Regions from separate parts of the Homo sapiens genome. Here region 1 is linked to region 2. The links come from fine-mapping of genetic effects on gene expression. A gene starts in region 2. The other region holds a variant in brackets. All regions are shown on one strand. Distances are from middle to middle. Region 1 has its middle 23 kb from the start of NWD1. Region 2 holds the start of SMIM7 (small integral membrane protein 7).

Evidence for each region.
Region 1: its variant is fine-mapped to the expression of SMIM7 in prefrontal cortex (GTEx, PIP above 0.99). The same link has a PIP of 0.9 or more in amygdala, atrial appendage, caudate, cerebral cortex and putamen.

The regions. Positions count from the first base shown.
Region 1 is chr19:16,694,003-16,699,372 of GRCh38, reverse strand. No RefSeq gene overlaps it. Among named protein-coding and RNA genes, the nearest start is that of NWD1, 23 kb to the left of the region's middle. The variant C/G (reference allele first, on the strand shown) is at 2,756.
Region 2 is chr19:16,657,966-16,663,335 of GRCh38, reverse strand. It overlaps SMIM7 (small integral membrane protein 7), which reads left to right and starts at 3,192. Exons shown (of 5, transcript NM_024104.4): 1 at 3,192-3,251; 2 at 3,336-3,377; 3 at 3,889-3,941. The coding sequence starts at 3,226. It overlaps TMEM38A (transmembrane protein 38A), which reads right to left and starts at 2,197. Exons shown (of 6, transcript NM_024074.4): 1 at 1,995-2,197. The coding sequence starts at 2,118. RefSeq lists an enhancer at 1,036-1,844 and silencers at 2,130-2,379, 2,400-2,599.

The DNA.
Region 1 (5,370 bases), 36 kb before region 2:
ACCACAATTTTTTTTAAAAAGGATAAAAAGAAACTTTCTCTCATTCCAAGACCAAGGAAGTTACTGAGTGTAACTTGCAGCCAAATTAGCCTGGACTTTGAGAGCCGATCCTCCAAGTTCTCACACCCACACTGGGACAACAGCCCCAGCCTGCCCCGCCAATCATTCTCCACCTGGCCAGTGGCTTGCACACCCCCTTCGCAGACTAGGCTGGGAGGCTATTTTGGTACAATCTGTTCTCTTGGAAAATGAGATCTCAGAACATTAGTGCCAGAAGGCAGGGAGCCGACTTATCTCCAACACCCACCAGATGCTAAATGAACCCGACCAGGGGTTCTGTGAGCACTTTGACAGAGGCAGCTTTTGTCCCAACTCCAGACCTCACTTTGTGCCAAGGACTTTCCAGTCACTCCTCCTAGCCATCCTAAGAGGAAATTGAGGCTCAGAGAAGGGGAGTTACTTGCCCAAGCTACGTATCTCGGAGATTAAAAGCCAGGGTTTGGCCAGGCATGGTGGCTAACACCTGTAATCCCAGCACTTTGGGAGACCGAGGCGGGTAGGATCACTTGAGGTCAGAAGTTCAAGACCACCCTGGCCAACATGTTGAAACCCTGACTCTACTAAAAATACAAAAATTAGCCAGGCATGGTGGCTCTTGCCTGCAATCCCAGCTACACGGGATGCTGTGGCAGGAGAATCACTTGAACCCGAGAGGCGGAGGTTGCAGTGAGCCAAGATGGCACCACTGCACTCCAGCTTGGGCAACAGAGTGAGAATCTGTCAAAAAAAAAAAAAAAAAAAAAAACAAAGACAGGATTTGAACAGATTTGGGAAACCCCAAAGGCTGCTCTCTTTTTCCTTTTCTTTTTAGATTAAGGTAGAATTTAGCCACAAAATTCTGCAAGGTTTTTTTTGTAGTGTTTCTTTGTGGGTTTTTTGTTTTGTTTGTTGTTTGTTTTTTTGTTTGTTGTTTTGAGACAGGTCTGGCTCTGTTGCCCAGGCTGCAGTGCAGTGGTGCAATTTCGGCTCACTGCAACCTCTGCCTCCCAGGCTCAAGTGATTCTCCCACATCAGCCTCCTGAGTAGCTAGGACTACAGGCACATGCCACCATGCCCGGCTAATTTTTGTATTTTTTGCAGAAATGGGGTTTCACCATGATACCCAGGCTAGTCTCAAAGTCCTGGCCTCAGGTGATCCTCCCACCTCAGCCTCCCAAAAGGGCTACGCTGCCGGGCGAATTCTGCAAGTTTATACAAACATATACAGTTGTGTAACTACTGCCACGTTAAAAATGCAGAACAGTCCCTTCCCTCCCAAAATTCCTCTGTCTCTCTTGTGGATAATCTCTCCTTCCATCTCAACTCCTGGCAGCCACTGATCTGTTTTCTATACTTAAAATTTTGTCTTTCCTTTTCTTTTCTTTTTTTTTTTTTTGAGACGGAGTCTCGCTCTGTCACCCAGGCTGGAGTGCAGTGGTGCACGATCTCAGCTCACTGCAACCTCTGCCTCCTGGGTTCAAGCAATTCTCCTGCCTCAGCCTCCTGAGTAGCTGGGACTACAGGCACCTGCCACCCCCAGCTAATTTTTGTATTTTTAGTAGAGGCAGGGTTTCAGGCTGGTCTCAAACTCCTGACCTCAAATGATCCACCCACCTCGGCCTCCCAAAGTGCTGGGATTACAGGTGTGAGCCACTGCACCTAGCCCAAAATTTTGTATTTCTAAAATGACCTACAGCCGAGTATGTGGCACGCACCTGCAATCCCTGCCACTCAGGAGGGTGAGGCGGGAGGATCCCTTGAGCCTGGGAATTTGAGGCTGTAATGATCCATGTTCCTGCCACTGCACTCCAGCCTGGGTGACAAAGCAATACCCCATCTCTAAAGATAAAATGTCCCGCCAATGGGAGCACACAGTCTCTTGGGTCTGGATTCTTTCATTTAGCAAATGCATTTGAGATTCAACCACACTGCTGTAGAAGGTCACTCCTTTTCATTGCTGTGTAATGTTCCATCACATGCATAAACCAGGTGGCTCATCCGCTTACCAACTGATGGACATTTGGGATGTTCCCAGTTTTTGGTGATTACCAAAAAAAAAAAAAATAGGTGAATTTTTGTTTCACCACAATGGGACTGTTGTGTTTATAGGGTAAGTGATGTTTAATTTAATAAGAAACTATCAGGGATTGTTGTGTTTATAGGGTAAGTGATGTTTAATTTAATAAGAAACTATCAGTCTGGGCAAGGTGGCTCACACCTGTAATCTCAGCACTTTGGGAGGCTGAGGCAGGAGGATCACTTGAGCCCAGGAGTTTCAGACCAGCCTGGGCAACAGGGCGAGACATCATCTATATAAAAAATACAAAAATTATCTGGATGTGGTGATGTGTGCCTGTAGTCCCAGCTACTCAAGCGGCTGAGGCGGGAGGATCACATGAGCCCAGGAGGTCGAGGCTGAAGTGACCTATGACTGCACCACTGGACTCCAGCCTGGATGACAGAGTGATACCCTATCTCAAATAAATACATAAATAAATAAATTTAAAAGAAACTGTCCAATTGTCTCCCACCAGCAGTGTGCGAGCTCCAGCTGCCCCCAAATCTTTACCTGCACCAGGCATTGTCAGTTACTTTAATTTAATCCATCCTTAAAGGACGCTGGACACAGAGACTCACATCCCTTTGTTTTGGGAGACCAAGGTAGGAAGATCACCTGAGTCCAAAATTAGCCCCAAGGTGATGGTATTAGGAGGTG[C/G]GGCCCTTGGGAGGTGATTAGGTCATGAGGATGTGGCCCTCATAATGGGATTAGTGCCCTTCCACAAGAGGCCCCCAAGAAACTCCTTGATCTTTCTACCATGTGGGGACACCAAAAGAAGACACCATCTGTGAACCAGATAGCCAGCCCTTACCAGACAGTGAATCTGCCAGCATTTTGATCTTGAACTTCCCAGCCTCCAGAACCATGAAAAATAAATTTCTGTTGTTTACAAGCCACCAGTTTATAGTATTTTGTTGTAGCACACTGAAAGGACTAAAACAGGAGATAAGGTCTTTTTTTTTTAAATTTTTTTAGCACCAAACTGATTGAGATAAGGTCTTTAAAGAGACAATTAAGTTAAAATAGTCAGTCAAGCAGGGTGGCTCACATGCCTGTAATCCCAGCACTTTGGGAGGCTGAGGTGGGTGGATCACTTGAGATCAAGAGTTTAAGACCAGCCTGGCCAACGTGGTGAAACTCCATCTCTACTAAAAATACAAAAATTAGCCAGGCATGGTGGCACGTGCCTGTAATCCCAGCTACTCGGGAGGCTGAGGCATGAGAATCACTTGAACCCGGGAAGTGGAGGTTGCAGTGAGCCGAGATGGCGCCACTGCACGCCAGCCTAGGCCACAAAGCCAGACTCCATCTCAAAAAAAAAAAAAAAGATAATTAAGTTTTAAAAAAAGTCTATAGGTGGGCCCTGATCTAATTCACTGGTGTCCTCGTAGGCAGAGGAGACTAGGATACAGACATACGAAGAGGGAAGACTATACGAGGACAGAGAAGGCGGCCGTCTGCCACCCAAGCAGAGAGGCCTTGAGAAACAAAACCAACTGACACCTTGATGTCAAACTTCCACCCTCAAGAATTAGGGAAAAATAAATGTCTGTGGCTTAAGCGACTCTGTCTGGAGTATGTTACTGCAGCCTATTCATTTATTTATGAGACAGGGTCTCACTCTGTCATCCACGCTGGAGTGCAGTGGTGCAATCTCAGCTCATTGCAGCCTCGAACTCCTGGGCTCAAGCGATCCTCCCACCTCTGCCTCCTGAGTAGCTGGGATTACAGGCTCACATCACCACAACTGGCTAATTTTTTTTTTTTTTTTTTTCTGCAGAGACTGGGTCTCACTGTGTTGGCCAGGCTGGTCATGAACTCCTCAGCTCAAGTGATCCTTTGGCCTCGGCCTCCCAAAGTGCGGGGATTACAGGCATGAGCCACCATGCCCAGACTTTTTTTCCTTATAATTGAAAGCTTCTTTTTTTATAGCTTTACTGAGGCATAACTGATAGATGAACTATGCATATATAAAATGAAAACTTTTAAGTACTTAGGTTGAATGAGTGGGAAAAAAAGAAGTAAAAAATAATTAATTAAAAATAAATAAAAAAGAGGCCGGCGTGGTGGCTCAAGCCTGTAATCCCAGCACTTTGGGAGGCTGAGGCAGGTGGGTCATTTGAGGCAAGGAGTTCGAGACCAGCCGGGCCAATATGGCAAAACCGTCTCTACTAAAAATACAAAAATTAGCCAGGCGTGGTGGTGGGCACCTGTAATCCCAGCTACTCTGGAGGTTGAGGCAGGAGAATTGCTTGAACCCAGGAGGCAGAGGTTACAGTGAGCCAAGATTGCACCACTGCCCTCCAGCCTGGGCGACAGAGCGAGACTCTGTCTCTCTAAATAAATAAATAAGAAAAAAGTTAATTTTTTTTTAAATCTTAAGTAATCAAAGCAAAATTTAGACCAGGCACAGGCACGGTGGCCCACGCCTGTAATCCCAGCACTTTGGGAAGCCGAGGCGGGCAGATCACCTGAGGTTAGGAGTTTGAGACAAGCTTGGCCAACATGGTGAAACCCTGTCTCTGCTAAAAATACAAAAATTAGCCAGGTATGGCGGTGGGCACCTGTAATCCCAGCTACTCAGGAGGCTGAGGCAGGAGAATCACTTGAACCCAGGAGGCAGAGGTTGCAGTGAGCCAAGATCGTGCCACTGCACTCCAGCCTGGGTGACAGAGCAAGACTCCATCTCAAAAAACAAAACAAAACAAAAACCCAAAAGTAAAATTTAATAGATTCAGACATGGGTATAGACCCAAGAAACCAGCACAATCAAAGCCATCAGCAGATCCATCACCCGAGTTTCCTGGTGCCACTGCAAAATTCCTCTCACCTGCCCTACCCTGTCCTTCTTTCCCCAACCACATGCTGATCAGCTTTCTGTTACAATAGTTTGCTTTTTCTAGGATTTCAGATAAATGGATGCCTATATTACACATTCTTTTTTGTATGGCTTTTTCCCACCAATCTGGATACATTCGAGACTCATTCATGTTTTTGCATGTTCACCACCTCCACCGCCTTTTTTTTTTTTTCGCTGAACAGTAGGCAATACTATGGGCGGAGCACAGCTGTTCATTTATTCACATTTTTGTTTTTTTAAAGACAGAGTCTTGCTCTGTCACCCATGCTTCAGTACAGTGGCACCATCACAGCTCACTGCAGCCTCAACCTCCTGGGCTAAAACAGTCCTCCGTCCTGCACCTCCCAAAGCCCTGGGATTATAGGTGTGAGTCACCCATGACCACCCTATGTTTAACTTATAGTGTTTTTGT
Region 2 (5,370 bases):
TCCTACATTCCCACAGGGCTCCAACCCTCCTCAGTTTCAGATTTTTTTTTTTTTCGAGACAGAGTCTTGCTCTGTCGCCCAGGCTGGAGTGCAATGGCGTGATCTCGGCTCACTGCAACCTCCGCCTCCCAGGTTCAAGTGATTCTCCTGCCTCAGCCTCCCAAGCAGCTAGGATTACAAGCATGTGCCACCATGCCTGGCTAATTTTTTTATTTTCAGTAGAGACGGGGTTTCTCCATGTTGGCCAGGCTGGTCTCGAACTCCTGACCTCAGGCGATCTGCCCGTCTTGGCCTCCCAAAGTGCTGGGATTACAGGCGTGAGCCACTGTGCCCAGCCAGTTTCAGATTTTCTAAGGTTCTGCAACTGCCCAAGGAACTGGCCTGAACCACCAAGAATTCTTCCCCAGAAAGGAAAGATAGCCCCATGTTCATGCTAGGACAACACAAAAGCCTATTTTGTTTTGCAAAGTAATGTTCTCCAGGATAGCTTTTAAGAAAATAGGCTCTGGCATGTGGATAGGCAAAAATAGAATAAAAATTCCTAGCAAATAGAGTGTAATCCTGTTAGCATAAGAGCGTGCATTGGCTGGGTGCAGTGGCTCACGTCTGTAATCCCAGCACTTTGGGAGGCCTAGGTGGGTGGATCACAAGGTCAGGAGATCGAGACTATCCTGGCCAACATGGTGAAGGCTTGTCTCTACTAAAAATACAAAAATTAGCCAAGTGTAGTGGCGGGTGCCTGTAGTCCCAGCTACTCAGAAGGCTGAGGCAGGAGAATCGCTTGAACCTGGAAGGTGGAGGTTGCAGTGAGCCGAGATCACGCCACTGCACTCCAGCCTGGGCGACAGAGCGAAACTCCATCTAAAAAAAAAACCGCAAAAAAAAAAAAAAAAAAAAAAGCGTGCATTTACGTTTATAACTATATAGCCGTAAATGAATAGAAGAGACATCAAGAAAGGTGGCTGGCCACCAGTATGTTGACAGTAATTCTCTTTTTTTCCTTTGCCCTTTTCAGTTTGAGTTTTTAGTAAACAGGGGCGCTTATTTTTATCCTCTGAGAATAAAGCTATTTCCTTTCTGAGCTATAGTGGTAATTTACATCTAAGTGGGAGAAAGGCTTATGAAGTTTGGGGTTCCTTTATTTTTCTAAGCCTAAAATCTATTATCTAGTAAGTTGCTGGTGTTCTAGAATAACGGTGAACAAGAAACATTTAAACATTTGTTCACGGTGAACCTTTTATAAAAATAGAACACGTTCTAAGGAAGCCATTCATCCTCATTTTAAAAATTAAGAAGCAGGCTGTACCCTCCTGTGACCTCCCCAGCGTGGAGTCTGGAGCTGAGATGGAGGACACTGACCCCAAGTCACCCAGCCTTGGGGCCGGTTCTGCTCCGTAAGTGGAAAGGATCTGGAGCCAGGGCTGGAAGAATTCCCGTGGGGGCTCGGAGATTCAGCACCGTGGGGGAAGGGAGGGGAGTGGAGGGTGCTGGGCAGTTGCAGTGGGGAGGAGAACCGGTGTCACTTTCGCTGAACCTGACCGCAGCCCCCAGCGCAGTGGCCCTTATAGACACTCCGCTGGCGCTCTCAATCCGCGTGCCAAGGTCAAGGAGGGAGGTCACACCTGCGCGCGGCCAGAACAGATGCACCGACCCCCACCTGCACCCTCGCCACAGCCGGCGCCCCTTGCCCAAGTTCCTGCAGCTCTGACCCAACCAGGAGCCCCGACCCCAAGCACCTGTTCCCCCTCCTCTAAACCCGCGCACGCCTCTCCTTCCCCTCCCCCAGCTTCATCGTCCTGGGGGCTTCTCCCCCGGGCTCACCCCGGCGTGAGAGAACCCCACGATTCTAGCGCCTGCCTACTCCCACGATGCAATCCTTGAACCTGTCCCTCGCTCCCTCCACCACGCACGGGCTTCCCCTCTCTGCGACCCCCGAGCTGCCCCGGCCCGCGCCACCCGCTGCCGGTCCCCTCCAGCCCCCCGCCCCGGCTCACCTGGCTCATACTTGAGGTAGAGGATGGAGACGATGAAGTAACTGAGGTCGAAGACGGGGAAGAGCGGCACCCGCGAGAAGCTGAGCGCCAGTTCGCCCAGGCTCAGCGCCGAGAGCAGCTCCATGGCGCCCGCCTGCCCGCCTGCCGGGTGCCACCCGGGGCCCCGGCCTCGTCCGTCCCGCCGCCCGCGGCCCGGCGACTGCGCCCCCGCAGCTGGGCCCGCCCCCGCCCGCCAGGCGCCACCCCAGGCCCGGCCCCCGCGGGAGAGGAGGGGCGACGGCCCACCCCGGGACAGGTGGTGGGGACGCCCAGCACCACGGACGCAGCTGGACGGTCGGGCGTCCCAGGCGTTGACCCTCCTGCCATCGCTACCCCGTTCCGCCCAGCGAGGCGGGGTGCGGGGCACCCGTGCAAGGCGAGGGAGGCTGGGGAGCTGCCTGTTCTGGGGGCCCGTCCCTCACGGAGCCCACCCACGCGGGACGCCCGTTCCCAGGGGGCCGGATCGGCCAGGACTTTGTCCCCGTGGGCTCAATTAGGACCCCGATCTTCGGTGGAGCCCAGTGAGGACCCCTACGCCATGGTGGGACCCCATGAATCAGAACCCCTGTTCCCCGTGGAGATAGGTTAGGACCTCGGTCCTCTGTGGAGCCCCGTCAAGACTTTTCTGCCCCATAGGGTCCGTTCGATCAGGAACCCCGTCTCCGGTGGGGCTCTGCAAATCAGGACGTCTTGTGGGGGGCAGCTCAGTGGGAACCCCCGTTCCCCATGGGGCCCAGGAGGATCTCATTTTAGAGCCCAGTTGGTTGGGGCACCCGTTTCTAGGGACCCCACTGCGTCAGGACCCCGCACCCTGTGCAGCTCAGGAGTCAAAGGATTCCTTTTGTCCAGAAGCCCAATTTGGGACCCCAGAAAGTGAGTAGGAATTGCTGCCCAGCTAACCCTACGGCATCGAGACCTCACGCATGCGCGGCACGCTTCGAACGCGTGACCCAATCCCGCCCCCAGGAGACCCCGCTCCTCCCATTCTGGCTCTCGGGGCCTCCCCAGCGAGGTGGGGCGCTCGCGCTCCCCTAAGGGGGTCTGGCCTGCAGAGGGCGGGACCCTCCCAGCCTTGACCTTCGATTGGCCCAGCCCTCGCCACTGTTGCTTTAGGATTGGTCGGCTTGTGCTCCTCTCCCCTCCCTCCCTGGGGCTTCCGCTTCCGGTTCTGACGGACGCTTCGGCCGTAACGATGATCGGAGACATCCTGCTGTTCGGGTAATTAGGGGGACCAGAGGCTGGGAAGAGAGAGCCAGGCAGGACGCGGGGGCGCCCCTAGTAACTGTAATTCTCCCTCTGCAGGACGTTGCTGATGAATGCCGGGGCGGTGCTGAACTTTAAGCTGTGAGTAGGTCGCGGCCGGACTGCGGCTCCATCCGGGGAACCCGTAGCCCCGCCCTCATAAGCGTGATCTCGGCGCACTTCTCAGGCCCCGCCCCCAAGCCGCAGGCCCCGCCCTATCCGCCCTCTGGGCACGCCTCCAGCCTGGTTTATCTTCCTCGCCCCCCACCCCCCGAGAGACCTTAAACCCATACTCTCCGTTCCTTGGTTGTCCCTCTGTTCACCTTCCTGGAGAGCTTAAGCCCCATCCCCCAAGAAATAGCCCCACCGCGGACCTTCCGCCCTGCACCCGCACTGTCGGGCCACTTTGTAAACGGTCGGTGGCTGCTGACCTGGCTGTGATTGTCCGGGCAGTGGGGGCCCAGAGAAGGGTATTGAACGTCAGAGGTCACACAGCAAGTTTGCGGCAGGGCCAGGGCTGAAACTTAGTGTTTGTGGCCTTCTGAGCTGGGGGTCAGGGGGCTGAGGACTCTATGTCCCATTGAAAGTGGACACTGTCTGCTCCTCTTTGTAGGAAAAAGAAGGACACGCAGGGCTTTGGGGAGGAGTCCAGGGAGCCCAGCACAGGTAAGGTCTAATTGGATCCTGGAATTGCATGGTCCACTTCAGAGGACAGTTCTGTTTCGCCAAGCCCTACCTTCGTTTTCTTTCTTTCTCTTTTTTTTTTTTTTTTTTTTTTGACACAAGGTCTTGCTCTGTTGTCCAGGTTGGAGTGCAGTGGTGCGATCATGGCTCACTGCAGACTCGACCTCCTGAGCTAAAGTGATCCTTCCACCTCAGCCCCCTTAGTAGCTGGGATTACAGGTGTGTGCCACCATGCCAGGCTAAATTTTGTATTTTTTGTAGAGATGGGGTTTCTCCACGTTGCCCAGGCCGGTCTCGAACTCCTGGGTTCAAGTGATCCCTGCCTTGGCCTCCCGAAGAGCTGGGATTACAGGCGTGAGCCACAAGTTTTCTCTTTAATTGAGCGTGTGTGTGAGTGGGAGATGACTGAGAATGTGCTAGCCTTTCTGCCTACCTCTGTCATCTATTTCTTTCTCCTACCAGACCTCCCTGATGTGAGCACTCACATCACTTCCTACCGTTATAATGTTCTGTTATGTTTGCTGTCATCTGGCTAATGTCTGCCCCTCACATATGACTGTAAACTTCAGAGAAGAGGCCCTAGCTTGGCTTGTCCCATCCTTTGTTCTTGCCGTACCCGTCCTCCGATGCCTGTGAATGAATGAATGAACAACCTCACACATAGCTGTTGCTTTCAGAGTGCTGCAGACCTGCCACTTTTAAAATTAGATGCCAACATTAGATTTTTAATCAGGAGATTTTATATAAAAATTAAGATGTCTGATTTTTCTTGAAAAATTGGAACATTCTGCAACTCAAGATTCAGGAGAGCTGTTTGCATCTATTGAGTGTAGTTGAGAAGGACTCTGAGGAGGTGGGGCCTGTAGACTCTGCCTCATCCCAGCCCTAACCCCTTCATATGTCTATCATCTGCCTGGGCCCTGGAGGCCCCAGAATTTACACTTCCTGCTGAATTTGATTGTGTAACTATTTGGAGTCTTAAGGGGATCTGTACATGACTATTGTATCCATTCATTAATTCTTTCATTCACCAGATATTTGAGTACCTAACGCATGCTGGCTACTGTGCTAGGTGCTGGGGTACAGCAGGGGTAAGACAGATAGAGTGGAACTTACCATGGGGTGGGACACATGGTTTCTAAGCAGGGAATAGATAGTGACAGAGGTGACGTTAGGTGACAGAGGCAGGGAGTCACAGGATGGTGATGGGGTTGCCCTCCTGCTGGGGTGTGGAAGGGAAGGCCATTTGAGGAGGCGGCGTCACAGTCAAGGCGGTGGATGCCATGATGGAGCACTGCCCAAGGATGGGGGAACCCTGAGGAACAGAGGTTTTCTTCTTTTAGAGACAGGGTCTTGCTCTGTTGCCCAGGCTGGAGTGCAGCGGCACAGTCATAGCTCACTGCAGCCTTGA